Regions from separate parts of the Homo sapiens genome. Here all the other regions are linked to region 4. The links come from fine-mapping of genetic effects on plasma protein levels. A gene starts in region 4. Each other region holds a variant in brackets. All regions are shown on one strand. Distances are between the middles of the regions.

Region 1 (8,106 bases), 110 kb before region 4:
CTGGGGTGGGAGGATTGCTTGAGCTTGGGAGGTTGAGGCTGCTGCGAGCTATGATTGCACCAATGTACTCCAGCCTAGTGACAAAATGAGACCCTGTCTCAAAAACAACAACAACAACAAAAACATGGGCAGCCACCAGCAGGGCATACACTGCAAGCATTTTGCCAAGTAGTGAGATAGGGTTGGGCCAGGCACCCTATACCTCAGGAGATCAGTGGCTCAGCTTTGGAAGGTTGCTGGGCAGGTGAATTCAGGTGGGGAATAGAGAATGCGGCCAGCAGTGGGTAATCAAAACCCAATTCATCAATTCACTTAATCAGGGCTCACTAACTGGTTCATTTTGCCACTTACCATTGGCATTGTTAGAATCCAGCCTGGCTATCAGGGCTGGGTGAAATCTTAGAGATCATTTGGTCCAAGTGTCTGAGGACTCTCAGAAATTGTATGCAGGATTTTATACATGAACACATTTCATTTTTCTAAGTAAAGGGTCCTTCACTTTTATTAGATTCTCAAAGATAAAATAATGATCCCAAAAGCTTTGAGAGTCACTGATCTGATCCAGTCTCTCATTCTACCTACATGGTCACTGAAGGAAAATAATTTACCCAAAGTCACAGAACCACTGGGTGGTATACCTTTCTGTTTTAATTCTTTCTTGTGGTGTTTTGACTACCTTGCCCATTGCCAATCTCAATCTTAGTGAACAATCACTTTTCTTGATACTATCAAACCCCATAGGTGGCTGCCATGGGCTAGTCCATTGGCAAATGATGAATGATTATCAACCAGGCATCCATCACAAAAGTTATATTCCAGGAGGCTCCACGGAAGTGTAAGCACAGTTCCATTTTCAGGGAGTTTATAACCTAATAAGCTGGGGATAAAATACATCTGAGCATCAGTGCAGAAACAGCACCTCTAAGGACCAGTAGGAAGCCAGCGCAAAATAGCACATTTCAAGAACTGTATTTGAATAGGTCACTGTGAACTAGAATCCTGAGGAAAGTCTAAGTCCCAGAATCCATATCCTAGGAAGACATGGTTCTCTATGTTGATCACTGGGCAGAAGTTGCTCTAGACCCATCTCCGCTTGATGCAGGATCCAAAGAGTGGGTACTGCTGGCTTAGGTGGAGGAAACTTAGTGAGGATAGGGTGGTGTCTTTACATAAGAGACAGACAAATAAAGATGGTGTGGAAAGCTTCTGTGTTTTCCATGTTGGACTAAGAGGCCCAGTGGTTTCTTACAGAGAAGCCAATGGCAGGAAAACCTTTTGATGTCAATTAGGAATGACAGACAATGAAGCTGACTGCCTTGGAAGGGATGAACTGGGCCTCGTTGACTATATTAAAGCAAAACTGGGTGGTCCTCAATCAGGGACCATAATGTAACAAGTGACTTCCTGATCAGGGTGGGAGCTACTTAATTCAGTATCTCTGACCTTGACTCACAGTAAGTAAACATTTTTCCATAGTAAATATACCTATGCACATAAATATGTATATTATATATGAATACAAAGCTGAAAAAAGTTTCAAGAAAAAATACTTAGCTTTACTACCTTATTCATGTTTCTCCTTTCTTTCTCTCCTTTTCCTTTCTTTTCTACTTCTCCTTTTAAAAAACAAAATGCTGGTAAAAGACCATTAAATTGATCTTGCCACTCACTGAAGTGCTGTGGCCCATAATTTGAAACACACTGCACTGAACTTTTCCCCCTAGAATACCTTAGATGGCATTTCCAATTCTACAATTTCAAAAATAAAGCAGGTGTCATTAGCCCCTGAGAGGAATCTGTTTCTTGAACTTGAATTCAACACCAACACATGGCAAATGAAGCCTGTTCAACCTCAAATATGCTCTGGATTCATCACATATCAGAGCTGTGTTTTTGAATGATCCACGGTAAGATATACACTGGACATTGTGACCCAGTAAACACCACACACACATACATACACCTGAAACAAGTTTCACAAACCGATTCTCCTTTTTACTATGCGTGAGAGCCTGTGGTATTCTCTTTTCTATTCTATTTCACCTCTCAGTTTGAGAACTCCTGTTCCAGAAAGACAGAGCTGAGATGAAGAGTGAAGCTAAAGCATGTCATGGACGTTAACTAGGAAATGGCTAAAACTGGTTAAATCCTGCTAGGAAAATACTTTTGAGAGTGGAATTTGTTGGAGCAGCCAACTGTCCTCTAGGGGATACAACAGAACATCCAGAATAGCCTTGACCATAGAGGCCACTCTACTGGCCTTAGAGGGAGGGGACCAGAAGCCTAATTACAGCACAGACAGACACCTGTGGCCTCCTTCTTTCCACATCAAACCTACCAACCCACAATGGGATGCTTTCTGGAGGACGCTGGGTTACTTGATGGCTCCCTCCCTAAGTATTTTCTCTCACATTATTCCTTCTAAACATCATCTCATAAACAGAATTAAAAATACTTTCCTCCAGACAATCCCATGCCTTGAATCTGATTCTACTATCACACTGATTAGATCACCTTCCAGTATAATTTTAGACTTCTGTCTTTCCTCCTGGGCTGGGAGCTCATTAAGCATGGTGACTTTGTCTTCTTCATCTACGTGTTCCTTGAGATGTCTGCACGATCTTTCAAAGACGGGAATGCTACCAGTCTCTTTCCTGCTTACAACTTTCCATAGCTCCCTATTCCCTTCAGGATATAGATGGGCACCTTTATAAGGCCTTTTTTTGGTGTGACCCTCACCGACCCATCTCTCACCCCACAGAGCTCCAGGCTTTCTAAGCAATTCCAGGAACATTTTCTTCTTGCCTCCAAGCCACTGCTTAAGTGGCTTCCTCAGTCTAAGCTTTTCATGTTGCTTCCTCCCTCCCCTTTTGCCTGGTAATCTCTGATGTGTCCTTCTTTGCTCCCATAAGAAGCCTTCTTTCCTTCAAAACTAGGTCAGATCAAGCTTATGTTTCTCCAGGTTCCTGATCGCCATGCCTGCCTACAACACTCACTACTCCTCTGAACTCTGTCCATCTGCATTCCCCAGTAGACTGTCCAAGGGTGGAGTCTACAGCTTATTTATTCATCCCTAAATCTCTTGCATGTTTTTCACATGAGATACTCCATACATACATGTTTGTATGAACATATGCTCATAGGAGGTATCCAATAAAGGGTGATTGAGCTGAATTAAAATATCTTCAGAATTCAACTTAGAAATAGCATGATGCCTTAAATCAGGGTTGGCAAATTTCAGCCAGCTGCCAGTCTTAGTAAATAAAGTTTTACTGGAACACAACGACACCCATTTAGGTACTGTTTAAC[C/T]TCACCCATTTAGGTACTGTTTATGGCTGCTTTCCTACCACAGTGGCAGAGTTGAGCAGTTGAGACAGAGTTCATACAGCTGGCAAAGCACAGAATATTTACTATCTGATCCTGTGAGAAAAAGTTTAGCAACCCCTGATCTAAGACAACAGCATGGTTTAACTTGGCTTGTGCCACTTTGACAGTCCAATGAAGCCTATGAACGCCTTCTCGGAATGATGTTTTTAAAGGCATCAAATATATAGGTTCACAAAGGAAATCAATTATATTGAAAAGGATCATCAAAATAATAAAAATCATGAAATAATATACTTTATTAATACATTAAATAAAAAACCTAGCAATGGATTCAGTAACTATGCTAATTTCAAAGTAGTGATAAACATAACTGGTATTTTGAGATATGTGCAACCATTGTAACCAGATAAGAAAATACTTGTGATTCTAATGTTGACAGGGTCACAAGAATTGTTAATACCATTGTGATTTGTTGTCTACATTCATTTTTGAAGAAAATGCTAAATTTCCATTGGTAAAACTAGGGATATAATTTTTTTTCCAATCCAAGTCCAGGGACCCCTTGAATTATATTTCCTGAATTCTATCCAGGAAACCCTTGGGGATCTATGGACTGCCAGTTAAACACCCTGCTCTAAGAGAAGAGATGTGATCCCATACATTACCCAGGGCAAACACAACAGGGGTGAGAGGAAACCTCATGCTCAGAAGAGCCTCCGAATCAGTCAATTTTACATACTGGTTTTATGCAGGATTTGCTCTACACTAAATGAATTGCAGAGAAAGGTCCAAAACCACTCAGTAGTCAAAGATGGAAAAAAAAAAGATGTAGTATTTGACCTTCAGCTTTCAGCCTTCTTTCTTTATTTACAAATTGGTTTAACCTAACCAAATGACAAACACATGGATACAATGGTGTTATGATAAACTCACCTGGCAATTTGTCCCAGGTGGGGCAATAGGAGAGCACACTTCATTTACAGTTTACAAATGGCTCCCAAAGCTGTTTCATAATTCAATGTATGTCAATTGCCATCAGTCTAAGCAGGAATTATATCAGGAATGTTTAGGGTAGGAGGAATTGAAGCTTTACGGGATCAATTTGCCGAACTACAGGTCGGACTTCTTTAAATCCTTTAGAGTAGCCCTTCCATTAGGGCCTGAGCAAAGGGACTTGACAGCTTCTGGAATTTCTAGGACCAGGTGCTAGTCTAGTAGGTGGCTCTGAGATTTTCAGTTTCAAAACTAAAGGTAAGGAAAAGAATTCTTTGTGAAGCAGCACTTGTCGCCTGTCATATGAAATCCCAGCTGACATCCAAGCAAGCTCATTCTTGCTTATATCTAATTCTATTGCTGATGGTAATGAAAGCTCATACTTAAATAGCAAAACTTCTAACACTTTTTTTTGAAAAGAAAGGGAGATTAGGGAGGGTTGTTTTTTCCCATTTCCTCCCAAAATTAACTGTTTAAGAATAATTCTTTAAATATTTTCAATTCTAACTTTTGGGGGCTAGCAAGCCAACACCAGACTACATCACTCTTAAATATTGCAGTCATATGTCCAAGTTTTGCTATATATTCCAGTAAAATGCTCTGAAGAACGGTGGCAGTTCACTTAGTTATGATGACGAGCTCTAAGACATGAATTTGCATTCCACATGAAATAAAATCACAGTAGGAACTTTCAAGTTAGTCATATCCATTTAGGTATTATTTGAAGCTTTACCACATCTTGAGATTACTTTTATGATGAGAAAACGATAGCAATAAATAAACTTTCAGTTGGGATTGAAGTGGGGCATTGCGGGGGTCGGGGGATGCATATGTGCAGATCCTCGTTGGCTTTTGTATGGTTTTTATTTCTGTAGTGGGTGAGGTCAGATGTTGGTTACTGTTGTGGCCTCTGATATTGGTGGTAAAGGATTCATTGAATTACTTGTGGGTAATGCTTTTTACATTATTTACTCAAAAATAAGTAACCGCTAGTGTGAAAATATATTTGCATGTGGCTCAAGTTAAAAAAAAAAAAATCAAAAATCCTCCATGAGCCATTCTTCTAAGTGCTGTACAGACCTGTTCATCTCTGCAACTCTTCTGAGGTAGCCACTATTACCATCCGTATTTTACAGCAGAGGAAAGTAAGGCTTAGCAGGACTAAGCAGCTTGCTCAGGGATCCAGCTAGTTGCTGGCATCCTCTAGATCAAGCTTGTCCAACTCACTGTTTGAGGGCCACATGCGGCCTAGGACAGCTTTGAATGTGGCCCAAAATAAATTTGTAAACTTTCTTCACACACTATGAGGTGATTTTTTTTTTTTAAGTTCATCAGCTATCGTTAGTGTGTTTTACGTGTGGCCCAAGACAATTCTTCCTCTTCCAATGTGGCCCAGGGAAGCCAAAAAATTGGACACCCCTGCTCTAGATCAATCCCATGACTGCCTGTGTCCAAATGCTTACCAGCACCTATTTGACATGTGGTGTGTTCACAGTGCTATGTCCTATATTCCACACAAAGGAGCAAGGTAGACGTTGCATTCATGTTCCAAGAGGAAGACAGACCTTGAAGAAGTAATTAACTACAAGTGTGCTGAGTATTGCAAGTAAATGTTGGAGGTATAGCTAACCTAATCTGGGAGTAGAGGAACGTAGTCAGGCAGGGCTTCCTGGAGGAAGTGACACTTAAAGAGGAGTCCTGAAGGATGAACAAGAGTAAGCTAAGTAAGGAGGTAGAATAGCTGTCCTGACAGGATAGCAAGCATAAAGACTTGTGGCCAGGGAGGGTGCGGTGGCTCATGCCTACAATCCCAGCAGTTTGGGAGGCTGAGGTGGGTGGATCACTTGAGGTCAGGAGTTCAAGACCAGCCTGGCTAACATGGTGAAACCCCGTGTCTACTAAAAATACAAAAAAAAAAAAAAAATTAGCTGGGCGTGGTGGCACATGCCTGTAATCCTAGCTACTCGGGAGGCTGAGGTAGGAGGATTGCTTGAACCTGGGAAGTGGAGGTTGCAGTGAGCCAAGATCACACCACTGCACTCCGGCCTAAGTGACAGAGCAAGACTAGATTCTATCTCAAAAATAAATAAATAAATAAATAAATAAATAAATAAATAAATAAATAATTTCAAAACACACTTGTAGCCAGGAAGAAGCAGGCTATGTAGGAAAGCAGAAAAGACCCATCGAGTAAGCCATGTAGGAATAGTTTGCATTGATTGAGCACTTACTAAGGGCTAGGCGCTGTTCTAGGCATTTTATGTGTGTCAACTCATGTAATTTCATAATAACCCCATGAAGCAAGTAAATTATTATCCCCATTCTGTTGTCTGAGGCCAGAGAAGTTAAATAACCCACCAAAGATCACACAGCTTAGAAGTGGTAGAGACAAGGTTTGCACTAGGGAGTCCAGCCCAGAGCCTGTGTGTTACGCAATCCATCGATACTGCCTCCCCTACGTCTTGATACTAGACGAGCAGAGTCACAGGATTTTAGATGTCACGTATCCAGCATGCCTTAATTTGCAGAGAAAGAAACTGAGGACTGGAATCAAGCAACTTCACCAGGCTTAGAGGCTGGTTCAGAACCATCTCTCCTGATTCCACATTTGGACACACTTAAACCTCAAGAGATGATACTATGAATCAGGGTATAAGCCTCAATTCTGAATGAGAAATGCCTTTAACCTTCACAGCTTTTGACCTTGACCATGAGTCAAATCACATCATCTCTTAGAACAGTTCAAAGAAAATCCATCCTCTGTTCAGCTTCCATTCTGAATCCCAGACTTGATCTTCATTTCAGTAACAGCCTTTGCAGGGTCACTTCCTGTGAGGAAACTAATTAAGTTCCTTTGTTACTTACAGAATATGGAAGTCTATGATGAGATGGAAGGAGAGATGACTTTTGACAAAAATATCAATTTGCGAGTAATACTTTAAAAAACCCACCCAGGTTGCATGACCTTGAAAGTCTCAAATGAAACCAATATGTAGGTACTGCAGTCCACCTAGAAGCAGCCCCGTGTGAAGATGAATTCTTCAAGTCTTATTATGGAAGGCATCTGCCAGGGACTAGAGGAATATTTAGGCAGAAAAGTCAGAAAGGAAGAAGATGGGAAGCTTTGCTCCTTCTCACTTATTAATATAAATATCTTACGTTGAGATTTAGAGAACGTTTCTTGACCCGAGTCCCTAAAACATACACAGACATATTCTGAACTTTCACATGTACCCAAAATAAGCCAATAGTAGACTTTGTGTGTGTGTGTTTGAGAGAGTCTCACTCTGTCGCCCAGACTGGAGCGCAGTGGCATGATCTAGGTTCACTGCAAACTCCACCTCCTGGGTTCAAGTAATTCTTGTGCCTCAACCTCCCAAGTAGCTGGGATTACAGGTGTGTGCCACCACACCCGGCTAATTTTTGTATTTTTAGCAGAGATAGGGTTTCACCATGTTGGCAAGGCTGGTCTCAAACTCCTGGCCTCAAGTTATCTGCCTCTTTGGGACTGGGATTACTAGGATTACAGGCGTGAGCCACTGCGCGCGGCCAATGGTGGACTTTTAACTAAAAACAGCCATTGCTGAGCTTTAGCCTGCCCCTTCCAGAAGGTGACAATGCAAAGCTCTGAAGCAGTTTTAGCCAATAAGGTGACACCTTTAGAAAAACTCTAGGTAAGTTAAATGAAAACTATTTTTCATGTTTATCCAACTCGATAGACAGCATACGACAGGCATGGCACCCCGATTGGAACTTCAGTGATGAGGAACGTTTTTCCAGGCTTTT
Region 2 (8,106 bases), 150 kb before region 4:
CAGGCAGCAGGGGGTTGGTGCCATTAGGATGTCAGCCAGTGCGCCACGGAGAAGGACAAGGCTGGTGCCCGTTGGTTGTTCACAAAGAGGTGCAGTGCACACCTCCACAAGACTCATTAAAATCTTCACCCTTCGACAAAACTCTGCCCCCCAGGAAGACCACACATAAGCTAAAGGTGGCTTCCAAAGTGTGTTGGGGGAGAAACGATGAGGGCAGTGGAGGCAAGCCAAAGAGTTCCCAGCACAGCCCAGAGGAAGATGAGGATGGTAAGCCCATAGGAGGTTGGAGGCTCCTCTCAGTCCACACCTGTCAGCCACATTTGCCAAAGGGAGATGAGAAGGCCCCAGCCTTCTTCCCATCACATCCACTAGAGCTCCAGAGAAAAGAAACTGTATTCCTTTGGCTCACTCTGCATCCTCAGGATTGACAGGAGTGCCAGGTACCCTCCTCAAGAAACATTCAGCAGCACCTACAGCACCAGTTACATCCAACAGTACCTCCAGCACCAGGTACATTCAACAGCACCTCCAGTGCCAGGTACATTCAACAGCACCTCCAGAGCCAGGTACATTCAACAGCACCTGCAGTGCCAGGTACATTCAACAGCACCTGCAGCATCAGGTATGTTCAACAGCATCCCCAGGACCAGGTACACTCTACAACACCTCCAGAGCCAGTTACACTGTAGGTGCTGCTGAATGAATGAATGATTTCCAAAACCCAAGTTTTATAGGTTATCCTGCAATCCCAGTACACCAGTATTTGGTAAACTGGTTCATACTCATTTTATACAAACCATTCTTTCATCTACTAGAACCTATCCTGTATATATTTTTTCATACTATAAAAAGGCAAATATAATGTAAGATAATGTAACAAAAAAAGAGTGTGAGGCTTTTGGCAGGAATTACCTGAACTGCAGGGAGCGTCGGATGATAGCCAGGGACATGAAATCCCCCCTCCCGTGTTCGTTCTCCCCACAGTAGAGCAGTAAGCCATCCTCTGCCTCCGCCTGTGATTATACAAACAAAAGCCACATGAACAGTAAGCACCTCCCCTTCCTTAAGGCACCACCTGGAAAGACACAAATGTGAAACTTGAGCATTTTCTCCTCCACGATCCTATCTACAAAGGGTCAAGCATGTGGGCTCCAATTCACTCCCAGATACCTGGTCCCAGTTCATTTTCAATAAACAAATGGCAGTGATATAAACTGAGGGGTAGCAGTGAGGCGAGAGCAAGGTGACCCCATCTTTGACCCGCTCTTTACTTGTCCTTTGTGGATGCACCTGCAGAGCCTCAGAAAACCAAATGTACAAAGACCACGGTCACAGTGAGGACATTGCTGGTGTACATCCAATTCTATTTTCACTTTGTTCTTTCTATTTCCCTCCCCCTGGGGAGGCATGCACATTTGCTTCTTTCCTTCTATCAGGAGAACAGGATGGTAAGAATAGCTCAGCCAAAAGCTGTGCTGGTGGTCTTAGACTAAGACAGGTCATTTCTTGAAGACTCAACACTGTGGCCATGACTTCAAATGAGACTTCTTTCCAGACCTCCAGACCTTTTTGTATCATTGGAGATACCCAAAAGAATCAGTTTAAGCTGAGGTCACTGACTGAATTCTTATCTGCAGTTGATTCAAATCAGAGAACCTCCACTGGGCCCTCACGAAGCAAGGCTTGCGTAAAGAAAAGTTTTCTATTTGTTCAGTGACAGCTATCACAATGAAGACAGAGAATTGGGCTCTCTTTTTAAACAATTTTGGAACGGGGAATGCATTGTTTCTTCTCAATCCTGGCCTGGGAGAAATCACTATTGTGAACAACATTGCTCGGACCCCAACATTCTCACTTGCAATCTTCATGCCAGCTACTCTATAGTTCAGTAATATACAAACCCACCGTCTCCTCACTGTCACACTTGAATGTTGTGAATGTACTCTTCATTCCTATTGTCTCATGAGCTGGTTTAGAGACAGGCTCTGTGTCATATTTACCTTTCGTCGCTCTCCCTGCTGCCCCGCTTCCTCTCCCCCAGCCTTTGAATGTAGCACATTGCTGTGTTAAAGTGTCCAAAAAGCACTCATCAAACAACACATCCCTCTTACCCTAAATTCAAGAGTAATTTGAAATGCCTGATAAGAATTCTTCAGAGGTTCAAACGTTACATAGGAGTGGCCAAAGAACTGAGGATACTGGATAACAATATCTGAAGAAGAAAAAAGACAACACAAAAGAATGCTATTTCCTCACTTCTTCAAAAGCAAAAATCAATATACAACGTTGCCTGAATATCATTAAGTGAGAACCCTCACTAATCTATTCAACTTCGCTATCTTCTTTTCTATACTTTTTATACCTACAACTCTCATTCTTGGAGACTTTGAGCTTCTGAAATTCTTAGGAAGAAGCTGCATTTTTGGAGACCGGCACTGGCTTTCCTAAGAAGAAACCAATGGCATTAGGGCCACTGTCACTTGCCCTCAGCTATACAGGCCTTTGTGTAATATAAGTTGGCCCAGTTGTTATCCTTCTTAACCCTCATGCATAAGCTTTAACTGCGTATTTTGGTAGAGATGTGATTATAGTAAAACCTACCTCTCTAAGATAGTATCAGGATGATTTATTGATTGCTTTAAAGGGACTACACATTTGGCACACATAGAAATAGGGCTGCTGTCTACTTAGAAGCAATGAAAGTTGCCTCACAATTTGCCTTGTATAGTTAATTTAATGACCAATATGTGGACGAAGGTACTTATCTTGGAGAAGGGACTAGAAGGAACTATGTTTGGACCACAAAACTGCCCTCTGGCTGTCAATGGTGCCAATTCATCACCACTTCTTCCTCTCCCCCAAGGGCCTACCTTCTGAGCAGCTCTCACCACCTTTGCCCAGGGTGCACTGGCATCGCGAGCCCCCCCAGGTGTAGTCATTGACACAGAAGCTGTCAGCAGAGCAGAGAGTTTCATCACAAGGCATGTCAAAGAGCCTTGACATTATGGCCACACCATTCTTCCCCTTTCTCTGTATGGGAATGGGCTGGGGAGCCACCGTGGTCACAGGGAGAGATGCTGAGGTAGGGGGGATGAGCCTAGAAATGGTCTTTGGGTTAGATATAGACATCTTCTTGCTTTCCACCAAAAATTTCTTATTCCCTCCTTTGGTAGCAGGAAGTGGTTTAACCTAAAGCCAGAGAAGGAAAGGGGTTCAAGATGAACACAGAGCATGGCAATTGGACTGTTTTATTTATAGTTGTTGCCTAGTACTTGAAAACATGGTCACTTCCAAAAACCCTAGGATGGAGATGGGGAAGACAGCACTGACTCTAATTTATGGACAAAGAGCTTGATGGTCAGGGACTTATAGTGCTTTTCCTTGTATTACTCAGAAAATCAGCAGTAAAACTGATATTACATTATTTATTCTTATTACAATATGATGAAGATGCATGACTTTGTCAAGGAATTGTTCATTTCCTTATAATACTTGATTTTCTGAAATTTCCCTTGGTGGGAAATAGAAATATGTTTTTGCCAGATTGTGAAGTCCGCAGGCAGGAGCTGCCTATGGAACATCAGGATGGCTAGTACTTCCCTACTACTGATTTATCAGCACCTGGAGACTGATCATCAGACAAAACAAATCAGTGTTAAAAGCAAATGGGCACATTTAAGTTTTAAGTAAAATGTTTATGGTCCATTGGCTAAATTGTCTTGTTCGGCAAGAAAACACAAACACCCTGGGTTTTAAGAGCAGAGATTATTGTTACCTCCTCAAAGGAAATATCCAAATCTAAGTCGTCTTCAAATCCTTCATCATCCTCACCAGCTCCCATGTCGGTGATATAACGGGGTCCATAGC[G/A]GCCACTTCCCGCCTCCTCAGGGCCTTCACAAAGAAAAGCAGCACACCCTTCATCAGCACAGGCCTTCTTTGCACTATTGTCTAGCCTAACTCAGCCACAGGCAGAGCTGTACCGAATGGAACGCAGTGTATTGGAAACATAACAATGAATTCAACACAGAAAAGGAAGCGTCAATGACCAAAAGATATAAAAAAAGTTTCCTCTCATAAGTTACTAAGGAATTTCCAACTGAAACCAGAAAGAGCTTCCATTTTATACTGACAAGACTGGCAAAAATGTCAATCAGATAATAAAAATATTACTAAGGACGGGATCAATGAGGACTCATATGGTACTTGTATAAACTGGTCCAGTCACTTTGTGAAATACTTGGAAATATTTCATAAAGTAGATGTTTGTTCATACCTAGCAATCCCATCCCAACTTACAAAAGCTGGAGAAACTCCTGTACCTGTGTACCAAAAGGCGTGTTCAAAACAGGTTCATAGCATCAGAATTTGTAATAGTAAAAAATACTCCAAATATGCTATTTATAAGAACAAACAACATCCCAAATGTCCATCAACAAAGAATGACTAAATTATTTATAGTATATCTATAGAATGGAGTACCATATAGTAGGGGAAAGGAATGAATCATCATTTAATATATCAACATGGCTTAATCTCACATGACTTCATACAAAAAAAATGCAAGTTGCAAAAGAATGCATCTAGTTTGATGACATTAATATAAAAGACAACAGCAAACAAAACAATATATTACTTAGGGATACATATATATGTAATTTAAACTCTTTAAAAAAGCAGGACAAACACATAAATACCCAAGGGAAGATAGAAAAGGGATGTGAATGAGGTGTGATTCACAGGGGCCTTTGAGAGTATTCCATCATATTCTGTTTCTTAAGGTAAGTGCTGGGTACCTGTAAATATTCATATTTTTTATATGTTGTATATATACATATATATACTTTTGAAGTACAAAGTATTTCACTAAAAGGTCTTTAAAACAAAAAAGGGAGATTATAGTAAACACTCCCACAACCAAAAAAAGGGGGCCCTATAAGGTATCTTGGGGGTCATCCATTTCATCCATCTTAGCAGGACAACTAAATCTTTCAGAACTGAAAGGTGGGTGAGAAAACCTCTCAGACGTCAATACAGAGCATCATCTTTTGGGGAACATTCAGTTGGCATTTTTATTCAACTGTCATCCGCAGAATCCACTGATCCACAGCGCTCTGATTTAGGTTGCACATGGGAAACACTCCACCAGGAGGTGGCAGCCTTTTAAAGAGCGGCTCCAGGGCACCTGCATGTCCTCACAGTGGATTTGGGCCAGCACAGGTATTAACTTGCTGCCCTCTCTCAACTGAAAAAGCCAGGCACCAGCCTTTAGGGCAGTAACAACTTTGGCAACAGAAACTGGCTTTGGTAGGATGCTGCCACTCATTAGTTATTAGACATCCAGTGTTTGGATGCCTAGTGGAAAAGAAAAAGGAAAAATAACATAAAAAGCATAAAAAACATAAACTAAACTTAAAGACATTTTGCTTTCAGAATAAGCTAAGTCATGCACCATTCTCAGGAAGACAAACTCACCCTCCTACATTGTCTGTCCAGGCTGCTACAACAAAAGTACCATAAACTGATGGCTTGTAAACCACAAACATTTATTTTTCACAGTTCTGCAGGCTGTGAAGTCCCAGATCAAAGGGCTGGCAGTATCTGATGAGGGCACAGATGGTGCCTTCTCACTGCATCTTCACATGGTGGAAAGGGCAAACCAGCCCCTTTGGGCCTCTTTAATAAGGGCACTGATCCCATTCACAAGGACTCCACCCTTATGATCTAAGTACCTCCCAAAGGCCCCTCCTTGGGGGTTAGGATTTCAACATATGAATTTGAGGGAGACATAAACATTCCGACCATAGCACTCCTCCAAACAGAATAGCAATCAGATTGAAAATGGAGTGGAAGGAAATGGCAGAAAGTCATTTTTGTCAGGGGGCGTGCTGTTGACCAGAAATCAATCTCCTCCCAGACCAGACGAGAGAAGTGCAGTCAGCAGATGATGCAGATGACCCAGAGACAGGGTGGAGTGAGCTGTTCTCAGGGGTTCGGGCACTTCTTGGTGGAGGTGGGATAACAAAGGGGAGGCGGTGTTCTCATCCCTTCCACACCAATTCCCCAGTTTTATTTAAAGTAGTCCACCTGTCAACTGAAAATTCAACCTGTCGATGCCAGATTTATACCTGGATGCATGTTCTCTCAAGCCACCTGCATGCAGCGTATCTGTGTGCCAGATGTCTTCACACAAAAGGCCCTTGAGGACAGCTCCTTCCTCTTGTCTCTATCTTTGTACAGCAAGCAGTCCCCCTTATCTGTATTTTTGCTTTCTGCAATTTCATTTACCCTCGATCAACCACAGTCCAAAAATATTAAATGGGAAATTCCAGAAATAAACAATTCATAAGTTCTGAGTAGCACGATGAAATAGCACACTGCCCTGCTCCATCCTGCCTGGGATATGAATCATCCCTCTGTCTGGCATATCCGTGCTCCATATGCTCCCTGCCCCATGGTCTGCAGCCGTCTCAGTTGTCAGATTCACTGTCATGGTATCGAAGTGCTTATGTTCCAGTAACCATTATCTGACTTCATAATGGCCCCACAGTGCAAGAGCAGTGATTCTGGGATTCAGATATGCCAAAGAGAAGCCATGAAGTGCATCTTTTAAATTAAAAGGTGAAAGTTCTCAACTGAATTAAGGAAAGAAAAAAATCATATGCTGAGGTTGCTAAGATCTATGGCAAGAATGAATCTTCTATCTGTGAAACTGTGAAGAAGGAAAATGAAATTTATGCTAGTTCTGCTGCATATATAGGGTTCAGTATTATCTGCAGTTTCAGGTATCCACTGGGAATCTTGGAACACATCCCCTGCGGAGAGGGAACTACTGTATCTATCTCTCTCGGCCCCTCTCTCTCTTTCTCTTTCTCCCCTCTGTCCTTTCCCTCACTCTTCATTTCTATCTCTGCCTCTCTCACATATTCAGAATTGTTAGATTCCAGAAGAAGAAATCCATTTGGTAGTAAAAGAATTATACAGCACATACATAAAGCAAGCTGGCTTTTGTCTTCAGTAGTTTGGTCTCTCTCCTTCCAGGCTGTTCTTCCTTGCCCTGTGCACCTTATTAACACATTCTCAACAAGGTTAAGATTCTCTTCATCTTTATCCTATGATTTCCTATCTGAAAAATCACCTTCAGTGACTCTCCACTGCCTACAACATAAATTCTAGGCTTCTTGGTCAAGAATTCAAGGTTCTCAATTAAAACAGCTCCTTTTTTCCTCCTTCTTCCCCCATCACCATGATTTATTGAATTCTACTCCATCTCCTCTTCTTATCAGGTACTATTGGGTGCTTAACATGATATATTTCTAAACTTTTCAATAATCTTACAAGGTAAGTATGACTAATCCATTTTATACATAAGAAAACTGAGTTAAGAGTAGTTAAGTAATTTACCTAAAATTGAAGACTTTATAACTGGCTGAGCTAAACTCAAATCCAAGGTCTGTCTGGTGACTGCTCTCCTAATCGCCTATTGCAGAAGAAGCCACTGTGGAGGTAGAAAGATCCTAGAATTTGAGAAAATTACCATATGTTGATCATTCTTAGTGTGCCAGGAGCTTTTCATACATCGCTTAAGTTAATCCTCACAAAATACTATAAAATTGGTGTTATTACTTCCATTTTACCAAGTGGAGATATAGACACAGAGAGATTAAATAACTTGCTCAAGGCAGACAGATGGGGAATGGCAGGGCTAGATTTTATCCTTGGTCTCTCTTTTGACTACATCATGCTACTTAATCTGAATCCTAATTATGTTTTCAGGTTTTTGTTGTTTTTTAAAAAATACTCTTTAAAAGCTATATAATAGCCAAACTGGCCTGCCAGTTGTCTCCTGAATGCATCTTGTATTTTCTTACCCTAGGATTTTGGTTAATGCTTTTTCCCATTGTCATCTTTTTCCCACTCCTATCTCCTTACACACAGCCTACCTATTCTCCCAGAGGGCATGCATTCTATGGAGACAGAGCTGAATGTGTGCCATCAGAAGACCAAAATCAAGCGACATTTTAAAAAGAAAACAGACTCTTCTGGGAAAAATGGTGACTCCACAAAGTAAGAAGCCACCAAGACTTGTAGGACATTCCTTCATCTTCT
Region 3 (8,106 bases), 120 kb before region 4:
CCGAGACAGACTGTCATGGGCTATCTGTCACCTATTCTTTGGAGGTTCCATGCATCATTTACTCTCTCCTGTGTTCTCTGCGTCCTTCCTCCCCTGTCTATAAGCTTCTAGATCCCACTGGGTTTGGGGGTATTCACTTTTTTTCCTTGGATGCCCCCTGTGCATATACAAAATGTGTGTACCTTTTCTCCTCTTAATCTGCCTGCTGTCCGTTTATTTCATACACTCAGTTATTAACCCCTCTGTGGGTAAAGGGAAAGTCTTCCCTCCCCGACACAACCAAGTCCCATCCTAATGATTCCGGTGGACCTCACTCAGAGGGCTTCCTCCATTCTTCCACTTCCCAGAGAGGAAACTTTTTGTTCTTGTACTTCTGTTTCTGAATTCTGGCATTCTGATGTCTTCCCATTCCCAGAACAGAGCTCAGAGCCTGGAGTCTAATGAAAAAGCTACAGAACCCCCAGTGGCTGCCCCTGTCAGCTACACCATCCTTTAGTAACTAGGCATGGAGGGAACATCTATTAACATCTCCTTCATCTTGAAGAGTGGTCAGATACCTTAACCTCTGTTCCACTTGTGTTTTCTTAAAATAACCCTGAGAAGTAGAAAATATCACCTGTCTCAGGATTACTGTACCCATCTTAGAGATGAGGAAGCTGAGACCCAGAGATACTAAGTGTCTTTTCTGAGGAGGTCCCACAGCAAGGTAGTAAGAGGACAGTTTTCCTGGACCTCAGACCCAGACTTGCCGGCCAGATTCTGCTCTGTTCAAAGGTACAGATGCTTGGGGGCAGTGAATAGTGTAAAGGTTGGCAAGAACTTTCATAGGCATGGATTGAAAGAGGCTGCAGCTGTAAGGAAGCTGCTAGAGAGTGCTAATAAGTCACAGGGACTTTGGAGCACTTCCTGATTGCTTTGTAGCCATCCCCAGAACATGCCACTACCTTCTGTCTCCATTGCTTCCTCTCTGCTCACTGCTGCAGCCTATTCAGGGGCATTGCCGCCAAAGAAGAGTCCTCACTTGCGAACAGGGATAAGGGAAATCTATTCTGTGGCTCTATGACAACATGTACCCCGGGATCCTCGCATGCTGTAACTGGTCTCCAGGCAGATGGGCAATGAAAAACACAGCGGCCCAAATCTCAGAGCAAAACTGGGCAAAAGCCAGACTCACACACAGACACTTATGGGACAACAGGTTTACACAACCAACGACAGCTGTACTAAGCAAGCAGGAAGGTGTAGAGAAGAAAAGAGGGGTGAGATGAGAGGGTGCTGGGGAACAGCATGGAATCAGATTTATTGTAGAAATCTGATTTGAGCCAGAGGGAGTTTGTCTCAGCTCAGTGGAAGAGTATGTTTCTGAAACTGTGGAAGAAAACAGTTTATGGAGAGAACAGTATGGCAAAAATCAAACCAAAACAAAACATCTCTCATACTTCTCTATGTAATCCCTGAGGATCTGAGACCATAATTAGCCTTATTAGGAAAAGGAGGAAAAGGTAGTCTAGAAATGTTAATGCTTATTATAATGATCAAGTAAGAACCCAGGGGTAAAATGAGGGCTTGGTTTGAAAGAGAGTTAGAAAATGTCTCTCCTTTCACCAACCCGCTATCAGCAAACTGTACTCTTTTTAGCATTAGAATCTCATCCTTACAGCCTTGAATTTAAATTCACTGGGTTTGCTCTCTTCCTTCCTTCTTTCCTTCCTCCCTCTTTTACTCTATTTGTTTACCTTTTCCTTATTTATACCACATTGCAATTCTGGGAGTTCACTTTTGCCTGCGAACCTTGCCAATGGGAAATTCACTTTTGGCCTATGTGGGTTTCTAGAACAACTGTTTCCTTTCATCTTGTCTTTGAAGTTCCCATACAGTAGCAGTAGGGAGTTATCCAATCACCAAAGTAGTCACAGACTCTTAGCTTGTTAAGTCACATTCACTCATTTACATACTCAATAAATACTTATTGAGCGCAGACCTTGCATAGGGTGTTGAGAACACAACATTTGATGGCTGGGAGTGGTGGCTCACGCCTGTAATCCCAGCACTTTGGGAGGCGGAGGCAGGAGGATCACCTGAGGTCAGGAGCTCCAGACCACCCTGGCCAACATGGTGAAACCTCATCTCTACTAAAAATCATAATAAAAAAATTAGCAGGGCATGGTGGCAGGTGCTTGTAATCCCAGCTACTCGGGAGGCTGAGGCAGGAGAAGCGCTTGAACCTGGGGGGCGGAGGTTGCAGTGAACTGAGGTTGCAGTGAACTGAGATCGCACGACTGCACTCCAGCCTGGGTGACAGAGCGAGACTCTGTCTCAAAAAAAAAAAAGAGAACACAACGTTGAACAAGTTATTCCAGCTCCAATATGGACCTTATCCTAGAGAGGAGATACAGACAGACAATATGATGCATAATATAGATTCAGGCAGTGAAAGTGCTATGGAGAAAATAAAGCAGGGCATTAGGCTGAGACCACAGAAGCCTGGGGTCGAGCACAGTGGCTCAGGACTGTAATCCCAGCACTTTGGGAGCCAAGGCAGGCAGATCACTTGAGCCCAAGAATTCGAGACCAGCCTGGGCAACATGGTGAAACCTTGTCTCTACAAAAAATACAAAAATTAGTCAGGCGTGATGGTATGTGCCTATAGTCCCAGCTACTCAGGAGGCTGAGGTGGGAGGATCACTTGAGCCCGGGAGGTGGAGGTTGCAGTGAACTGAGATCATGGCACTGCACTCCAAGACCCTGTCTCAAGAAAACCAGAAGCCTATCTGAGAAAGTGACATTTGAGCTAGGATCTGAAAGGAGAAAGGGAGGAGGCTGGTGGCATGATCATAGAAAGATCTGAGGGAAGAGAGTTCAAAGCCCAGGAAACAGCAGGTGCTAAAGTTCTGAAGCAGAAAAGAGCAAAACGGCTTTTGCTAGGAACAGAAACAGTACCATCTACTAGGAACTGATCTAAGGACACCAATTCACTTCAGTGAAGAATGTATTTGTTCTTTCTCTGCTCATATCATGAGGATAGTATCCTAGAAATTAAGTGGTTTTGGTGGTTAAGACCAAGTTCTATTCCTAGGGGAAGTTATATAACCCTAGAGTTGATTACACATGTAACTTATTTTTAATTAAATTCCCGTTTTTGGAAAAAAGAAGAAAGGCAAGTGACTTTTTTACTTCTGCCATTTCTATTATTTACCATTCATGTCCTTTTTACTGGCTTTCATTCTACTTGATGAAAGAATGTACTCATTAAGCTTCAAGCTCAGTAGTTGGTGGCCAGTGGAGGCAGTGAATACATTTTTTACAAAGCCCCCAGTTCTGCACTCCAACTGCCTGATTTACCAGGTCAAAAGGAAACTATAATGCTGCTGGTGTTTCTTTCTTGCAGGG[A/G]AAAAAAAAATACAGCAGGATGGGGATAAAGAATGAGAGATCATGATTTGGGTCTTCTTTGAATTTCCTCTTGGAAACAAAACAGGTGCTGATTTGTGTGGAACGCCTCCCAGGAGAAGACAGAAGTACATGTAGATGCACCATTATTATTCAAGGTCACCAAAATGATCCTAGCTCTCATTAGAGGACCTAGACACTAAAGTCATTTTTTTTTCTTCCTGTTCTACTTATAATGTTGTGGAGCTGGAATTAGATGTGGACACTGCACGAACTTCTCAACATTGCAGTGGAACCACCAACACCATCCTCCTTTCTCACTTCAGCTAAGTGCCAGTTAATGAAAACACTGGGCCTGGCTTTCATTAACTACCAGCACAAGAGCAACTAAGATCTTCCAATTGCCCCATTAAGCAATTAAGTTGCTAATAGTGTCTGGCATTAATAGGCCCAGTGGGAAGTGAAAGCTTCCCCAGTTAGTAGGGCTGAAGTGTTATCTTTTCTTACAAAAGAGTTTAGCCCTAAGATAAACAGGCCACAGAGGACCCCAGGGAGTGGCCTGTGTCCTTGGTGGGATCTCAAGGTTCCCACTGGGCACTTAGCCTCAAGGATCTCCTTGAACATTGTGTTGTGAAGGTGGCTGTTCAAGGAGCAAAGTGGGCATTAAATCAAGCCAATATTCATGGAGACAGAGAGGAGTGAGAGGGACGAGAATGGGGTAAGCCCGACATGTGGAAATTCTGACCTCACAAGTGGAGAGTAGTGTTCAAAACATTTCTGTGTCTTGGTTTGGGTCTAACTAATCTAAGGGGCTGCCAGCTGTAAAATACTAGGGCTATACCGAAATATACGGGTTGACTTTCAGTGCACATATATGTTTTACCCACATTTCTGTATGTGCAATATGCCTTACGAGTTTTAAAACCAAAAGCAAATGCAACAAGAACAAAAATAGACAAATGGGACTTAAACTAAAAAGTTTCTGCACAGCCAAAAAAAAAAAAAAAAAACAACAACAGAGTAAACAGACAATCTACCAAATGGGAGAAATATTTTCAAATCACGCCTCTGAAAAAGAACTAATATCCAGAATCTACAAGGAAGTCAACTCAAGCAAGAAACAACCCCATTAAAAAGTGGGCAAAGGACAATGAAACCACCTTTGCAAAAATTATGACAGAGGAAATTATGACAGTGAAAGAGATCAGACTTAACTGACTCCATCTTGCTTTTAACCTTTAAGCTGTCTTTATTCATTCCTGGGCGTAGGCCGAACTAACCTTGGGAAGGAATTCAGTTTATGGTTTGACTCTGAAACAAAACTAACAGCCTTTTCCCATAAAGATCCCCTTCTTGACTGGGGACCAGTCAGCCTTTGTAGGACTAACAAACTAGCTACAGGATTAGAAATTACGGTTTAGGAATCATGCAGCCTCTGGCTCTAAGAGTCTGAGCCTCCCCAAATTGCTCCTGGGGATAACATCACTATTGTAATACCTAAAATCAGTGCTTGAGATATTTTGCAGACCTTTTACTGGATGGATAGGCTGACACCACCCAGACCGGTAATCTGGCTCAACCAGTTCTGTGATCCCATCCAGGAACAGAAGACAGCAAGAAAACCTCACTTCGACCCCCTAGGAGTCCATCTCCAACCTGACCAATCAGCACTCCACATTTCCCAAGCCCCTGCCCAACAAATTATCTTTAAAAATTCTGATCCCCGAATGCTCAGGGAGACTGATTGAGCAGTAATAAAATCTGATCTCCTGCATAGCTGGCTTTGTGTGAACGATTCTTTCTCCATTGCAATTCCCCTGTCTTGATAAATAGGCTCTGTCTAGGCAGCGGGTAAGGTGAACTGTTGGGTGGTTACAGCATGAACAGACATTTCTCAAAAAATGATATACAAGTGGCCAAAAACTCAAGAAAAAATAGTCAGCATCACTAATCATCAGAGAAATGCAAATTAAAACCACAATGAGATGTCTTACACCAATCAGAATGACTAGTCAAAAAAACCCTACTCTGAATAAATTTGTGAGGCCAGTATGGTATTTCTACACGCTGGGCTTATCCCATCCTCAGTCCTCCCACTTCCCACCATCTACATGAATGTTTACTTGATTTGATGCCAACTTTGCTACCAGATGTCGGCATGACTGTGGAGAAAAGGGTAGGCTTATACGCTGTTCATGGGAATGCAAATTAGTACAACCTCTGTGGAAAACACTATGGAGACTTCTCAAAGAACTAAAAATATAACTACCACTGAGCCAGCAATCCCACTACTGGGCATCTACCCAAAAGAAAAGAAATCATTATATGAAAAAGACTCCTGCACTCGCATGTTTATGAAGCACTATTCACAATAGCAAAGTCACAGAATCAACCTAAGTATCTATCAAAAGTTGACTGAATAAAGAAAATGTGGTATATATACACTACAGAATATTATGCAGCCATAACAAAGAACAAACCCACGTCTTTTAAGCAACATGAATGAAACTGGAGGTCATTATCCTAAGTGAAATAACTCACAAACAGAAAATCAAATACTGCATGCTCTCACTTACAAGTGGGAACTAACCAATTGGTACATGGGGACATAAAGATGGAAATGAGAGACAATGGGGACTCCAAAAGGCAGCGGGGAGGTTGGGAGGGAGGTGGGGGCTGAAAAATTACTTCTTAGGTACAATGGTCACTATTTGGGTGATGGGTACACTAGAAGCCACATACATCTCACTCAGGGAAGCAGCTTCACAGTCAGCCAAACCCACGTTCAAATCCTGTCTTTACAATGATCAACCTTGCCAAAAATACATTACCTTTTAAAAACTCATTTTTTTTAATCTGTAAAAAGGGGACACTATTCCTCCAGCACAGTGTTTCTGTGAGGATTAAATGGGTTTTGTAGGTAAAGTGCCCAGCACATTGCCTGGCTCATAGTACATCTTCCCAATGGTAGCTCTGATACTTCAAATGTATTAATTTGAAGTATTTTGTATTATTTGAAATTTATTAATTTGAAGTAATTTGTTAATTTGTTAAATTAAAATTTAACAGTTTTAATTTAATTCAGATAGTGCTATTTGATAATTAGGTAATTTTATGTATGGGAAAATCATGTTTTGGAAGCAAAATAATAGTCTAAACCAATACCAAAATAAAAAATATAAATGTATCCTAGAATAAAGGGTTTTCCAAAATGTCAGAAGTGATCAAGGAGAAAAACCACGATTGAAATACTAATTATAGCACATGCTTTTGTATTCATGAAACAGGTCATCTAATAAATTTTGTTATTCTGATCTGAGTAACTGTGTATACCTAGAAGTGTAAAATTATGTCTATTTAAGAATGTTTCATAACTGAGAATTTTCATTGACTTAGCATGGTTTTGTCCACCTTCCCTACCCACAATTACTTTGAAATTTTAAAATTTTACTTCACATAACAGGCCAATTATAATAAAATCTCACAGATCTGTAAAACACTTTCATATAACTTATCCACTCAATCCAGAAAAGCAGGATCCAGCAATGGGGAAATTATAATCAGAAACTCTAAGACCAGATCAGTGTTTCCGTTAAAAAAGAAGCAGTATGAGGCCGGGCGTCATGGCTCATGCCTGTAATCCCAGCACTTTGGGAGGCCAAGGAGGGTGGATCACAAGGTCAGGAGTTCGAGACCATCCTGGCCAAAGAGACCAGCCTGGCCAACGTGGTGAAACCCCGTCTCTACTAAAAATACAAAAATTAGCCAGGCATGGTGGTGGGCACCTGCAATACCAGCTACTCGGAAGGCCGAGGCAGGAGAATTGCTTGAACCTGGGAGGCGGAGGTTGCAGTGAGCCGAGATCGCGCCATTGCACTCCAACCTGGGTGACAGAGTGAGTCTCTGAGTCAAGAAAAAAAAAAAAAGGAGCAGTATGAGAGGTGCCCCAACCCACCCATCCTTCCCTGACTCCAGTCTCTATGCGCACATCTAAATCAGCATGTGCTTGTTATATCTCATCTTTATTCTACATTCTTGACTCTACGGAGAAGGGAAAGCTAAGGGACAGACTGAAAGAGGTGAGCCTGGAGCAGCTCACGAAATGGGAGCAGGAGTTCCATGGGGAGGGTGGATGGGGACACAGCACCAAGTGGCTGCTCACTTTGTAGTGCAAAAAGACGAACTCAGTGTTTCAAAGTACTGTCGGCCCCTAGCTCCTGCTATTCCATAAAGTTCAGCCAAAGAGTAATCAAACAAGGCCTTCCTTTAAATCGAATCATCAACATTTCTTCTAGGAAGAATGCCGTCAGCCTTTGGAATGTGTCTGGGAAGTTTAAGCTTCTAAATTCTAAAGAAGAAGAGTGAAAACATTTTTTTTTCCTGGGTGATCAATAGTACTTATAGGGTGCACGAGCATGTGCATATGTGTGTGCGTGTGTGTGTGTGTATGTGTGTGTGCGCATGTGTGTGTTTTGGAGTATAGCCTCCCTATATAACCCAACAATTTAATTTGACAAAAGGCGACCCGACATTCAAGGTTAGGGTAGAGGTTGTTTTCAAAGGAGCCAAAATTCCTCAGATTTGGGGAACCTCCTGAATCTCTACCCCTGAACACAGCAGTGGCCTTGGATGTCAGCTGTGTGGGTGCTTTGTGAGGAGAGGAGATTATTCAGCTCTGCTAACCAATAAAAACAGGGCTTCATGTTGGCTGGTTAAGCC
Region 4 (8,106 bases):
TCAGGTACTGTAGTGGGCCCTCTGACCCTCACCAGCCTTAATCCCCAGGAGTTCAACAAGAGAAGCAAGTGGTTCATCATCACCCCATAAGGCCACACCCTGTGATTCTTATAAATGAGGCCAGTAGACAGTAGCTTCCAAAATTCTTTCAGTATCATATGCACTCTGTTGTCTTAGCAGGCATGGGCAGATCCCATTTACAAATGTTTAAGAGCAACGCAGGATCCCCACACAAAACAGCAGCCTCCACCTAGGCTCCAATATCTGACCCACGGGAGCTCCACTCTTCAGCCTCCAGGAAGACACCCTACAAGACATGCTACACACCTCTGCAAACACAGTGTTCTGAGCTCAGTTTCTGGTCCTGAATATCAGAGTTTAAATTTCCATTCCACCGCTTACTAGTTGTGTGACCTTGGATGAGATATTTAACCTCTCTAAGCCACAATTTCTCCTTCAGTAAAACAGTGATAATAATAGTCCCCATCTCCCAGGGCTATTGGGTTGATTAAATAAATCACTGTGCATCCAGTTCTTAGAACAGTGTAGCAAGCACTTAGTGTTAGTTATTATGATTTAATTTCACTTAATTTGAAAACTGTCATTTCTTGTAAGTCTTGGCAAATGCAGAGGTTTCTTTATTAATGTTCAATGTCAAAAGATGAGCTATCTTGGGGTGAAGAGAAAGGTTGCTTGTGTTGAACCCAAACTAGACTCAGACTTGAAGCTGCTACTCAGTTTTTTCTCACCAGAGGTAGGTGCGGATGGGGAATTTCCAGGTTGATTTTGAATCCAAGACTTCTCCAACAATGCTATACTTATCAAAAGTAGATTTAGGAGTATGAGGAGATAGGGAGGGTCATCCAAATAAGACAGAACCGCTCCAGTATGCCTGCACCGTGGCCACGATACCTTCAAAGTACTGTCTATGTACCAATTTCTGTTGAGGAAACAAGGTACAAAGAAACTCCCATATGGATACTAGCAGGATTTGCTAGTGTCTGGGGAAGATTATAAATTAGCTAGTTGCTGCTCACATCAGAGCCAAGCAGGGCACATTCAGTTTTTTAATCTGGACCAATTTTCCGGATCAAAAACTAGTCTTTCCAAGGGATGTAAATGAGCCCAGGAGGGAAATTTCCCCTGAAGTTATGAAGTAGCTGTCATTTTAATCTGAGAAGCTTTCCAACCTGAAAGCTAGTGTCTGGATAAAATTATAAAGTAATAAAAATAAAACTCTTCTAGGTTGAACCTAGTCTAAACACTTCTATCTCAAATTTGATGTAATTAATATGCCAAAGTATTTAAGAGGTGGTGTTTCCACTATCAAAACCCTATCTATGCTTCAAATAAAACCAAAGAGGCCAGCATGGCATATTCCTGGCATGAATATCAGAATGAGACCCTGAATGAACCAGGTAGAAAATCTTTTTAGGAGAAGAACTCCAAAAAATAAGAAGGAAAATATGATGACCCACATGAGCAGTTTTATACAACAGGTTTTTATAAAATGCTTTTTAAAAATTCCCCTTAAATGGATTAAAATATATCCTTTAAAAAGCATTGCATACACTGTTCATGCTTTAAAACTATAGATATAACTATGCTTTGTTTAAAAATTGTGACAATTAATAGATGATTTCATGTGAATAAATCTGCAAAATGCAATTGATCGTGATGTGGTTATCTTAAGGAGGAAAGTTAGAAAGAAGCCCTTCACTGAAATCCTTGAAGGTATATGTATGTGTGCGTGCAGGAAGAGAAACAATTTAATGTGATATTACCTTGGACTGAAGCTATTATCTCCAAAATGAATTGAAGAGCTCATAAATGGAGTGGCTCATAATTTAAATATGGTGTAGATTATGATAATGACCTTAGATTTCAAGGCAGGTAACAAGTGCTGGTAATAAGAGACACAGTGCAAAGACTGAGGACGCTTCCAGAGCCGAAATGCAACAAGTCATATTTCCAGATAGAGAGTTTCAATGCGAAAATATTTAAGCATTCACATGGGATCCCGCTAAGACGATTTTCTCTGCCCTCTGATAAATTTTCCTAGCTTTGCCTCTTTCTTACAGAAACGTTTGTGAAGACAAACTGCACTTTCTGTGAGGTTTTGCAGACTGCATTCAAATAAAAGTAATATTGTTTTCCATTGTTCATAAGATATAATTAATCCCATAAGACAACCTCCCTTACAAAGTAAGTTAAGACAAAACAGATTTTTCAGAATTCTAAATATGGTCCCAGCAAAAAGTAATAAAAATCGTTATTTGGGAAACAATGTTTAGAACTTCATTGTTCAGAATGTTCTACTTTGAATAATCTCACAGCATAGGCCAAATCAAAGTAGACCAAAATAAACGAAGACTTTTTACCTATATGCAGCTAGAGGAAACACACGTTATTATGGTTTCAAGTTCTCCCCCAATTCCCAGTCCCTTATAACAGGTTACAACGTACATTTCTTTGTTTAAATGCCAAAGCAAAGACAGGAGTTCAAAACACGGTAAAATTAACCCACTGGGTGCTTCCTTCTGAACAAATGGCCCCAGAGTGGAAGAGGATGCTAAGAGCAGAGTCCACATCCCTGCACAACGCGTGGGCAGGACCCGAGATGGGCAGAGGGGGCTCCAGGCAACCCTTCAGACACTTAACAGGAAATGGCTGGGCTCTGGACAATATGAATTGAGTAAAATGTTTGGAGACGCAGGAGGGGCTGGTTTGACTCCTCTGCATGGTTGCCATCCTCTGTAATTGAGACAGCACGATCGCTGTCCCAACTGTCAGCTCTCTGCGGTCAAACACGGGGACCACCACCTCTATCTACTATGTCTGGAAAATTGATCATTCTTTTAATAAATAAATATCCCTAGCGCCGCCCGGGCTCGGGGGAGGGCGAGGTTTGCGTCTTTTCTCAGCTCCTGGCAGAGCTGAAGCGAGTTAAGCAGACGTTGGTCGGGGAGAGGGAGGCGGTGCGCTGCCCGCTCTGTGTCCTCGCCCCGGAGCCCAGCAGGGGCGCTCGGGGCGTGGTGGCTCTGGGCGGAGGAGCGCATTACCTGGTTTTCGGATGGCCGCTCGGAGCGACACCGCGCCGGGTCCGAGGCTGGAAGCCAGGAGCAGGAGCCGGAGCAAGACGCCTCGGATTAAATCCATTTCGCAGCCGGCGCCTGCAAAGTTTCACCAAGTCCCGGGCGCACACGGAAAGGGCGTCTCCGGGGGCGCGTGGGGGACGCGGCCCCAACGGATCCCCGGGCCGGGGCGAGGAGGTGGGGGGCTGCGAGGGCTGGGCCCGGAAACACGGGTAGTTCCAAGAGGTAGGACTGCAGCCGGGAGGTCGGCGTGCGCGAGTGAAGCCGGCTGCAAGCTGCAGGGCTTTTCGCGGGGGCGGGGGCGACGAAGGAGGCCGACTGGGAGGGAAGGGCTGGCCGCGGGAGGGAGGGAGGCTCGACCGGCCCGGGGATGAAATTACAATCGAGTGGAAGTGAGAGGGACAGGCCCTGAAACCTTCACTCCTCGCCCACCTCGGAAGCAGACAGCCCGCCCCTCACCCTCTCTAGCGACCCCCAGCGCAGCCCTTCCCCGCTGGTGACCTAGATTGGGGACCTGGGAGGGACCGACTTCAAGCACTGGAGACGCAGGGCAGGAGTTAGGCGACTGCGGGTCCAGGACCCTCCGCGGTCCTCACCCTGAAATCTTGGGGCGCCCCCCCTCCACCCCACCTGGGCCCTCCTCCTGCCGCGCCCCTCTAGGCGACTTTTTCTAACACCTCAAAGGTTGCTGTAGTTGGTCCAGCGCACTTGGGGGATGCGAGGGGTAGACGGGGGTCTGTGATTTGCAAGTGGGGTGGGGGTGAGAGGAAGAGAGGCGGGACCGTCCGGGTCTGAGGCGCTAAGAAGATAAATGGGATTTAAGGCTCGCAGATGGAGAGCTGAGGCCAGGCCGCTCAGACTGGGACGCCGGGTGGAGATTAGGGCCTGGAGCGGGGGAGTGGGGGCCCTTCCCGGCAGAGGAAGGCAACTTGAGACCCTCCTGGGGAGGAGATGAAACTCCAAGTTAAGCCTGGCGTCTTAGGGAGGGACGCGAGCTCGAGCCCCCAGGCGGACCGAGAAAAGCCCCTGGGCGGCGCCCAGCTGGGCCTGGGGCAGGGGGCCGGGGCGGGGTCCTGGCCTCTGATCCCGGGATCGGGCTTCCTGGGTTGTCTCCTGAATGGAGAAAGACTCTTTCTCCGCCGCTGAATTTGCTGCCCTAGGACTCAGTAAAATGTACCTTTTGCCAGATTTCGCGGTAGTGCCTGGAGAGGGGAGACCCTGCCTGGGACACAAGTCCCGTTGCATACTGGCGTTCTGACCTCCAAACCAGCGAGAAGAGAAAGCAGATACAATAAATAAACCAAGAGGGAATAAACTTAGAGGCAAACGCGGCCCTCGGCAGTTCCTGGGGAAAGATCAAAGGCCGTAGGAAGTGCCCCGCAGAGGAAATCTGCAGTCACTAGCGACAGGACCGCGCCCGCCCCCTCCCCACCTTGCAACGCTGCCAGGACTCGGTGGGCGTCCTGGCTCTTCACAGTTAGCCTATGTTTGGGAGCGCGGGAGGAAACAATGTTGACTGATATATTCTTCTCCCCTCCCCAGCCCCCCAAACACACACACACAGGATTTCTACTCCTCTTTTAAGAATGAAATATCCCCTGGCTGGAGAGTTTGTAATGAGCTCAATCTTGTTAGTTAGCAAAGCTGAGTGTGTTCCCTTATGTGTTGGCATTTTCAAGTGTGCAATTGTCTGTTCACAAATAAATTCAAAGTCCCCTCCAACTTGAGTATTTGGAAGTTTTAGCTGTGACACCAGAGCTTGTCCTCTTACATAGAACTGGAGCAAAGTTCAGACAGAACTATGCTCTTCACGTCCAAGGTGACCATAAAGCCGGCCACTAAGCTAAGCAAAGTGACTGCCCCCAAGGCTGCTAGTCTCAAAGGTCTCAAAATCATAGACTTTTTAGCATTTTAAAGGTCATCTAGGCCATGCCTCCACTCCACGCAGGAGTCTGCTTTCAGCATTGGTGTCGGGTCGTGCCACCTCCCTTTGAACTCCACCTGTGTGAGAGAGCTCCTCCAGCGCCAGCTGAGAAGTTGTTAGAGGCCTTTCTTTATGCGAAAGTGATTTCTTATCTCGGACTTAATGTGGCACCCAGAACCAAGCGAGTGTTGCAATGCAGATGCCTCCCATGCAGGCTTTCCTACTTAAAAATGATTCTCTGTGATGCTGAAACTGGAAGTAATAATAATCGTTGATATTATGGCTACCATTTATTTAAGGTCTCCTATGTACCAGACCTTCTTTGAAGTGCATTTTAATCCCAATAACAACCATACCAGGAAGATACTGTCATTACTATTCTCGCCTTTTACAGGTGAGGAACCTGAAGCATGGGAAGGTTAAGAAACTTGCCCAAGGTCATGCAGCTCCCATGCAGCGCTTGAATCCAAGGGGTCTGATTCCAGCTTTCAGGCTTTTGAGAGAACAATGTGGAAAGTAAACACAGCAGTGGACTGAGAGGATCGGGAGATGTGGGTGTTTAATCCTAGGCTCTGCGTATAGTGTGCCTTGGTAAAAATGAATGGGCTGGACGAAACAATCAGTAAATTCCAGGTTTTGCTTTCTCTTTAATAGCTGATAAAACAGCATCATCTAATCTAAGCTACCTTTACTCTGCATGTGCCTTTTAACAGACCCTGTGCAAATTGTCCACTGCAAATTTCGCAAGCCTGGGCAGCCTTCTTGCCAATGTCCTCCTCATGTGCCCACACCACCTCGGCATCCCTGGCCCTGGGCCTCCCTTCCATTTTTTTGCAGATGACCATAGGCGATTTGGGAAATAGGCTTGGTTTCTTCAGAGACCCCTCTTGTTTTTTCCTTGGGGAAAAACAACATTAGATTATACTGTTGTATTTTTACCTCTGAGGGCCTGCAAACACTCTGGATCATCAGGCCATTGAGATAAGACCTTATTTCACAAAATCTGCTTCAAATCTAGAGCACATGTTACATTAAACTTATTCCCTTCCTTTGCAGTTCAAATCGCATCCTCCAAGGGAACTGGAAGATTCCCTCTCCTTCCAGTTTGAAAACCAACTATGGCATTTGTAAATCTGACTAAAGACAAATAGAACACTTGCCTTTCACTCTCTTCCTGCTTTCTGAGAGGAGGGGAACTAAAGAGGGGCCAAGAGGCTTTGAATGTTTCATTAAAAAAAAAAAAATCTGTTCAAATTCACTGGAGGTCTAAACTCAATTAATAAGGTCACCAGCAGAAGAGTGACCTGCCTACTTTGCTCATTATCATGGAAGAGGAATCTGACCTTTGCTGCATGGAATAGATTTGGAGGCTGGTAGAAGAAAGTAAAGGCAAACTTATCAATTATAGAATGTTTATTAAGACTCTAAATGAGAGTGACAAAGAGGCAGCAGCCAAGAATCATCTTTTGATTTATTTTTCTAAATTGGTTATATCTACATGTAAAATTTGAAATGCAGATCAGGCAGAGTGTATAGTGAAAAATAAGTTTCCTTTTCTTCCTTCTACCATCACCAGTTTCTTGGATATCCTTCTAGAGATGGTCTATGAATGGACAAGCTAATTATATACACATATATTTAACGCAACCAAGAGCATCTTCTACGTACTTCTTAACCTGATGATCCTTCCAAATCAGCAGATACAGATCTGCCTCCTTCTTACTAACTGCTGAATAATATTCTACATGTGATATGTAATTTATTTGTTCTTTCTTCTGTTGTTTCCAATTATTATAAACAGCAGGCATGAATGACACTGAATATGTAATAAGTTGCACATGTTATAGTAGACTGTAGGGTTCATTTCTAGACTAACCATGCTCGGTCAAACAGTAAATGCCTTTTCAATTTTGATAATTTGGCTACATTTCCTCCCAAGGAGGTTGTACTATTTTACTCCCCAATAAGCAGTATATGTGCCTAACTAATTCCGTGAACTCTCACCAACGTAGTGTCTTATCAAACTAGAAATATAAATATACATATATTTATATGTTACATTTTAATCAAGATGCAACATACAAAAGTATCAAATAGTAAGTGTACCAATTGATGAATTATAGCAAAGTGAGCACACTTGTATAACTTTATTAACTACTGCCCAGATCAAGGAATAGGATATGACCAGCACCCCCACAAAGCCCTCTTCATGCTTCCTCTCTAGAAGTGTGTATTTTTGAAGAAGGATGAGGGATGAGAATTCTAACCTCCCATTTACCTTTAATTAAAACACACAAATAAAAGTAGATCAGTAAAAATAAGTAAACACTCTCCCTACACCAATGTAAAACAAACATTGAGACTGAATCCCATTATGTGTAAGTCTCTGTGCTAAGAACAGAAATAATATATTAGAGAAAATGCAACAATATTTTTTGCACTCAAGAAGACTACAAATTTGTTGGGAGACGAAGACAGTTGCACTGTCAATTGTTCCATAAAGCAGAACAAAGGAAGCCCTAAATAAGAGTGCAAATAATGTGCTATTGGGTTGAGTGACAAAGACCCTGTATTACAAATGATAACATATATAATAAGATACTGTATAATGCATAGCCATCTGCTATGCATTATGTCCTCCTTGCTTATACTTGATTATAATTAAGTATGTAATCAATGGACTGCACTGACAAAGCAAACGTGTAATAAACCCCCAGATCAAGAAATAAAACAATACCAGCACCCCAAAAGCCTTTCATTCTTCCCACTAACTGTAACCTACCCTACAACCAAATAGGTAACCATTTTCCTGATTTCTAGCACCTAGATTATTTTGGCCTGGTTTTGAACTTTATATAGATGGAATCATGCAGTAATGTAATCACTTATTCCTCTTTTACTCAACATTATGTTTGAAAAAATTCATCCAAGTTGTGTGGTTATTCATGTTCATTGCTGTGTAGTATTCCATTATAGAAATGTATCATAATTTGTTTATCCATTTTACTCCTGATAGACATTTGGGTTGTTTCTAGTTTGGAACTACAACCGAAGATGTTGCTGTGATCATTCTTGTATGTGTCTGTG

Which allele goes with the higher level. Positions count from the first base shown, and alleles are read on the strand shown. Strength reflects both the effect of a copy and how common the allele is.
For the plasma level of the protein whose gene starts at base 3,355 in region 4, T is the low allele of the variant in region 1 and C is the other (moderate association).
For the plasma level of the protein whose gene starts at base 3,355 in region 4, allele G in region 2 goes with a lower level than allele A (strong association).
In carriers of allele A in region 3, the plasma level of the protein whose gene starts at base 3,355 in region 4 tends to be lower than with G alone (weak association).

What was found. PIP is the chance, under the fine-mapping model, that this variant and not a neighbour inherited with it causes the effect. Protein levels are from antibody-based Olink assays in UK Biobank. Linkage for the fine-mapping came from a reference panel and not from the study's own genotypes, which makes the PIPs less certain.
Region 1: its variant is fine-mapped to the plasma level of the EGFLAM protein (UK Biobank, PIP above 0.99).
Region 2: its variant is fine-mapped to the plasma level of the EGFLAM protein (UK Biobank, PIP above 0.99). The variant lies in the coding sequence of EGFLAM. If it changes the protein, the assay may bind it differently, which can mimic a change of level.
Region 3: its variant is fine-mapped to the plasma level of the EGFLAM protein (UK Biobank, PIP above 0.99).

Annotation. Positions count from the first base shown.
Region 1 is chr5:38,359,160-38,367,265 of GRCh38, reverse strand. The region is part of intron 5 of EGFLAM (EGF like, fibronectin type III and laminin G domains); the gene reads right to left. Among named protein-coding and RNA genes, the nearest start is that of EGFLAM-AS2, 40 kb to the left of the region's middle. The variant C/T (reference allele first, on the strand shown) is at 3,310.
Region 2 is chr5:38,401,911-38,410,016 of GRCh38, reverse strand. It overlaps EGFLAM (EGF like, fibronectin type III and laminin G domains), which reads right to left. Exons shown (of 22, transcript NM_152403.4): 7 at 3,776-3,891; 8 at 2,871-3,189; 9 at 2,112-2,212; 10 at 913-1,013. It overlaps EGFLAM-AS2 (EGFLAM antisense RNA 2), which reads left to right and starts at 6,546. Exons shown (of 3, transcript NR_102750.1): 1 at 6,546-6,618; 2 at 7,936-8,106. The variant G/A (reference allele first, on the strand shown) is at 3,868.
Region 3 is chr5:38,371,352-38,379,457 of GRCh38, reverse strand. All of the region lies in intron 6 of EGFLAM (EGF like, fibronectin type III and laminin G domains), which reads right to left. Among named protein-coding and RNA genes, the nearest start is that of EGFLAM-AS2, 28 kb to the left of the region's middle. The variant A/G (reference allele first, on the strand shown) is at 3,391.
Region 4 is chr5:38,253,808-38,261,913 of GRCh38, reverse strand. EGFLAM (EGF like, fibronectin type III and laminin G domains) reads right to left here and starts at 3,355. Exons shown (of 22, transcript NM_152403.4): 1 at 3,063-3,355. The coding sequence starts at 3,159. LOC124900966 (a long non-coding RNA gene) reads left to right here and starts at 3,248. Exons shown (of 2, transcript XR_007058739.1): 1 at 3,248-3,320; 2 at 4,283-4,817. RefSeq lists an enhancer at 4,224-4,725.